Regions from separate parts of the Homo sapiens genome. Here region 2 is linked to region 1. The links come from fine-mapping of genetic effects on gene expression. Tissue or cell type: whole blood. Region 1 holds a variant in brackets; the other region holds the start of a gene. All regions are shown on one strand. Distances are between the middles of the regions.

What was found. PIP is the estimated chance that this variant, and not a neighbour inherited with it, causes the effect.
Region 2: it holds the start of HAGH, and the variant in region 1 is fine-mapped to the expression of HAGH in whole blood (TOPMed, PIP above 0.99). The same link has a PIP of 0.9 or more in thyroid and tibial artery.

What each region holds. Positions count from the first base shown.
Region 1 is chr16:1,860,462-1,863,142 of GRCh38, reverse strand. MEIOB (meiosis specific with OB-fold) reads left to right here. Exons shown (of 14, transcript NM_001163560.3): 4 at 1,027-1,158; 5 at 2,668-2,681. Among named protein-coding and RNA genes, the nearest start is that of MEIOB, 10 kb to the left of the region's middle. The variant C/T (reference allele first, on the strand shown) is at 1,537.
Region 2 is chr16:1,825,402-1,828,082 of GRCh38, reverse strand. It overlaps HAGH (hydroxyacylglutathione hydrolase), which reads left to right and starts at 1,258. Exons shown (of 9, transcript NM_005326.6): 1 at 1,258-1,371. The coding sequence starts at 1,296. FAHD1 (fumarylacetoacetate hydrolase domain containing 1) reads right to left here and starts at 877. Exons shown (of 1, transcript NM_031208.4): 1 at 1-877. The coding sequence starts at 844. The coding sequence ends at 179. RefSeq lists an enhancer at 658-847 and a silencer at 938-1,907.

The DNA of each region.
Region 1 (2,681 bases):
TCAAGCAACCTTTCCTCCTCAGCCTCCCAAGTAGCTGAGACTAAAGATGAGTGCCACCACTAATTTTAAAATTTTCTGTAGAGATGGTGTCCTTCTATGTTGCCCAGGCTGGTTTTGAACTCCAGGCCTCAAGTGATTCTCCTACCTCACCTCCCAAAGTCCTGGGATCACAGGGGTAAGCTGTTGTGCCTGGCCAATTTTTATTTTTATTTTATTATTATTTATTTATTTATTTTTGAGACAAGAGTTTTTCTCTTGTCACCCAGGCTGGATCTCGGCTCACTGCAACCTCCGCCTCCTGGGTTCAAGCGATTCTCCTGCCTCAGCCTCCCGAGTAGCTGGGATTACAGGCGCCCACCACCACGCCTGGCTAAGTTTTGTATTTTTAGCAGAGACAGGGTTTCACCATGTTGGCCAGACTGGTCTTGAACTAACCTCAGGTGATCCACCCGCCTCGGGCTCCCAAAGTGTTAGGATTACAGGCGTGAGCCATTGCGCCCGGCCTATTTTTACTTTTATTTTTGGGACGGGGTCTTGCTCTGTTGCCCAGGCTGGAGAGCAGTGGGGCAATCACAGTTCGCTGAAGCCTTGAACTTTTGGGCTTAAGCAGTCATTCTGCTTCATCCTCCTAAGTAGCTGGGACTGAAATAACTATTTAGATCTGAATTATGACTTAGGTTGAAACAACAGTAAGAGAGAAAAGGAGAACCTAAGGTAATACCTGGATGGCTCAAGTTTACATGTTTTTCCCTCCAAATACACAGATCACCAGGGAAGGGAGCAAGGGGGCAACCTGTTACCACTTCAGCTTGAAATTCATAGAAGCATGTTATAGAATATACATCTGAAAGAACATTTTGTACTATGTATTTGAGTATTTTTATTATCATAATCAATAGTTATTTGATTAAACAAATAATCATTTGTTTATAATTGAAATGAAACTTTTCATGTAACACTTATCAAAAGGCAGAGAAGCGATTGAAACTCTTCATTTGAAAAATAAAAGCATTGGTTTTCCCTTAGATATTGGATCAGAAAGGTACACTTTCAGCTTCACCATTCGGGATTCACCAGCACATTTTGTAAATGCAGCTTCCTGGGGCAATGAAGATTACATCAAGTCTCTTTCTGACAGCTTTAGGGTTGGTGACTGTGGTAAGTTGGCATTGATTCTTAAACTTTTTCCATCATAGTGTTATTCCTGTGGTATGTTTATGGTAACTATACTGAAGGAGTTGAAATGAGACACAGTTCGTAATTCTCAAGAACTTTATCAGAAAAAGTCAAGTGTTAAGAGTATAATGCAGTGGGGCACGGTGGCTCATGCCTGTAATCCCAACACTTTGGGAGGCTGAGGTGGGTGGATTGCGTGAGTTCAGGAGTTCGAGACCAGCCTGAGCAACATGGCAAGACCCCATTTCTACAAAAAATTAGCTGGGTGTGGTGGCGTGGGCCTGTAGTACCAGCTACTAAGGAGGCTGAAGCAGGAGGGTGGCTTGAGCCCTGGAGGTGGAGGTTGCAGCGAGCCAACAT[C/T]GTACCTCTGCACTCCAGCCTGAGTCACAGAGTAAGACCCTGTCTCAAAAAAAAAAAAAAAAAAAAAAAAAGACTGCAATGCGAGGCATTCAGAATGTTATTTGAAGCATACAAATGTGATAGTTATATTTTTACTAAATAACCTTACTGTCTTTGGTTTATTACATATTTCAATTTGCACCAACCCATTTTATTGTTATAATTGGTTATCTTTCTATAGACATATAATACAGCCACTGAATATATTTTGATAAAAGTTGACATTTGACCACTGAATAGATTTTGATAAAAACTGATATTTAAATTGTTAATGGGATTTTAAGGAACTTTACTTTTAGTTGAAATACCAAATCTTTTACATCTACTCACCCCAGTATCTCTTTGACAGAACAGCCTCATATAGTAGGAAGAACAGGAGACTTTGAAAACACAGAGGTCTAGATTCAAATCCCAGTTCCAACATTGACTTACATCATGGCTTTGAGAAAATTTCTTAATCTTGTTGGGTCTCAACTATGAAATAATACCTCATTAGGTTCTTGTAAATATTAAATGAGATGGTGTACCTAGTATAACGTGTGGAACTTAGTCACTCAACAGATAACTTTTATGAGCCCTAGCCTCATAAAAGGAACAAGAAAGCATGTATACTAGTTCTTCACGATAGAAAAAGAGAAAAGAGTAATGCAGGTAATGAAAACACTCCTCTTTAATACTGTGGTCTCAAGCAGCTGACTCCCCATACCGGTTATTTAGAACCTAATCATATATTGCCTTGTATTGTTAACTTTCAGGACAATGTATGGTATCTCTCTAGTTGAATAATAGGGTCATTGAACATATGGACTATGAAGGCAGAAAGCTTCACAAACTTCATAGGGCCCAGTATAGCTATAGACATCCCTTGAATAAATGCTGGAATATTAGTTACATATGGAGATAAAGATTTCAATTTTGACATCTCAGTATCAAAATATGTTATATGTTGATGATGGAGAAGATGAATGAGGTGAGGAATTTTTAAAGCCTAGAGTCGATGATGATCATAAATTAAACAGGATGTTATTTAGGATGTTAGTGTTTATCTTGTTACTGTTTTGTAATATCATCATACTTTGCCCTCTGTTTTAGTGATAATTGAAAAT
Region 2 (2,681 bases), 35 kb after region 1:
GTCTGGATCTCCTGACGTCGTGAGCCGCCCGCCTCGGCCTCCCAAAGTGCTGCGATTACAGGCGTGAGCCACCGCGTCCGGCCAATAAATGGTTTCTAATTAAAGGATTGTGACATTTAATAGCCGTTGCTTGCTCTTGTCTTGCTCCCTTCTCTCTCGAAACTTGTTAAGAAATAACTCAATATTCTGGCTTTTCCACTTTAAATGTCATACTGACCAGCCCGTGTATGCCAGCCTCGATCTCATCGTTTTCTTTAACCGGTCCAACTCCCTTTGGCGTCCCAGTCAAGATAATATCTCCTTCTTCCAAGGTTATGATCTTAGAAACATAGCTGATGATGTAGGGGATGGAAAAAATCATGGAGGATGTCTCACCCTCCTGTCTGAGTTCGCCGTTGACCTTGAGCCAGAGCTTCAGCTTGTGAGGGTCAGGGATCTTCTCCTTGGGCACGAACGCGCTGACCGGGCAGGACGCCGTGAAGCTCTTCGCCAGAGTCCAGGGCAGCCCCTTCTTCTTGCACTCGTCCTGCACGTCCCGGGCGGTCATATCCAGGCACAGGGCATAGCCGCCCACGTAGTCCATGGCCGCAGCCTCGGGGACTGCGCGGCAGCGCTTGCCCATCACCACGCCCAGCTCCAGCTCGTGGTGCAGGTTGCGAGTGTACGCGGGCATGAGGATGGGCGAGCCCTCGGGCGCGTAGGCCGTGGACGGCTTCAGGAACAGCACGGGCTCGCTCAACACCGCGCTGCGCATCTCCCTGACGTGGTCCGCGTAGTTCCTCCCCACGCAGACGATGTTCTTTCCCCACTCCCAGAAGCGGGACAATGGCCTGGATGCTGCCATGATTCCCATCAAGTGCCCCTGTAGTCACGTGGGCTGGGCCGGTCAGCTGATGCCTACGGCATCCCGGAGAGGACCAACTGCCTCGGAACGCTGTCCCCCGCAGCGACGGCCCGTTCCACCTCGCGATCTGCCGGGTACCCGGGCGGCGTGGCGCTCGGCCTCCAGGGATCCACTGTGCGGTGCCAAAAAAGAGGCGGAGGCTCGCGGCACAGCTCTCCCGGCGCAGCTCTCGGGCCGCCGCCGCCGCTCCCAGGCCCGTCTCCCGGCCCGTGGCAGTCGGGGCTCGCGGACAAAACAAGTTGAGCGCGAGCGCGTTGATTGGTTGGCGGACGGTGCGAGGTGGACGCTGATTGGCTGAGGGCAGCGCGAGGCGGGCGCTGATTGGCTGCGACGCGCCGACGCCGGTGTTTTGCAGTCCTGGGCAGCTCGGCAGTCCAGCCCGGCCCGGGTCATGGTGGTGGGCCGAGGGCTGCTCGGCCGCCGCAGCCTCGCCGCGCTGGGAGCCGCCTGCGCCCGCCGAGGCCTCGGTGGGTGCGGCGGGGCGGTGCGGGCCGGGGGACGCGGGCCTGGCGGGGCGGGCAGCGGGCGGCGCCGGGCCGTCGTTTGGCGACCGCTGACGCGGTGTCTGTTGCGCAGGTGCCTAAGGCCGCGCTGCCGGGCTCGAGCGGAGGCGGCGCAGGCGCTGAGGCTGGCGCGGAGCGGGCGCGGGGCCGCGGGTGCGGAAAGCGCTAGGTAAGCAGGGCCAGGCCTGCGTCCGCCGCGGCCTCCACGCTCGGGCTGGGCCGGCCGCGCCCCTGACGCCTCCAGGGCATCGCGTCCTGCCCGGGCCGGCGCCGAGGAGAGCCTGGGGCGCGGCTCTGAGGCGCAGCGGGCAGGGCCCCGGGACGCCTGGCCCACCCCGCACCTGCTGCCCCGCTGCAAGGACCGCGGTCTCGCGGCGCCGCCTGCGGTGGTGGAGCTGCCCGCCCGGCGCCGGAGCCCCCGTCTGGGGACCCGGCGTGTCATTCGCCCGAGGTGGTCGCGCGGCCGGGCCAGGCCAGCGCCCCGGGCGGGTGCGCAGCGCAGGGCACTGGGCGGGCGGAGGCGCAGACAGGGAGGCGTCCCTGGCGGTTTCCAGATCTCGCCGAAAGCTGTCAAGGCTCTGCAGGGGGTAGAATGTCGCCATTGCTAAGGAAAGGACATGGATTTTGAGGTCCTCAGAATTACAGTTTTAGGGACATTCATAAGGGTCCAGGCAGAGAGTTCCAGCGGGACTGTGTGCATCGGCAGGGCGTGCGTACCCCATTCTAAGGGAGGCCCCAGCCCCCGTATTTGGTGCCGCCCAGTTCAAGGGAAGCAAGATGCTGTGAAACTTCCTGATTTAAAAAAGAAGTGCAGTGACGCACGCCTGTCATCCCAGCACTTTGGGAGGCCGAGGCGGGAGGATCGCTTGAGTCCAGGAGTTCCAGACCAGCCTGGCAACATGTTGAGACCTCATCGCTACAAAAACTAAACAAAATCAGCCGGGCGTGGTGGCACACAACTGTAGTCTCAGTCACTTTGGAGGCTGAGGTGGGAGGATCGCTTGAGTCCAGGAGGTCGAGGCTGCAGTGACCCTTGATCGCACCACTGCACTGTAGCCTAGGGGACAGAGTGAGACCATATCTCAATTTTTTTTTGTTTTTGGGGCCAAACCGAACATGTTTCTGGACTTGGTCCAGGCCCCAGGCTGCAGGTCCTTGACCTGTTTGTACAAAGTATTACAGTTACAAAACAGCAAGCCGGGAACATTTGCCAGGCAGTGCTGGGCTGAGTGATATGGAAAGGGAATACGGTTTCTGCTGGTGTTGGCACCAGC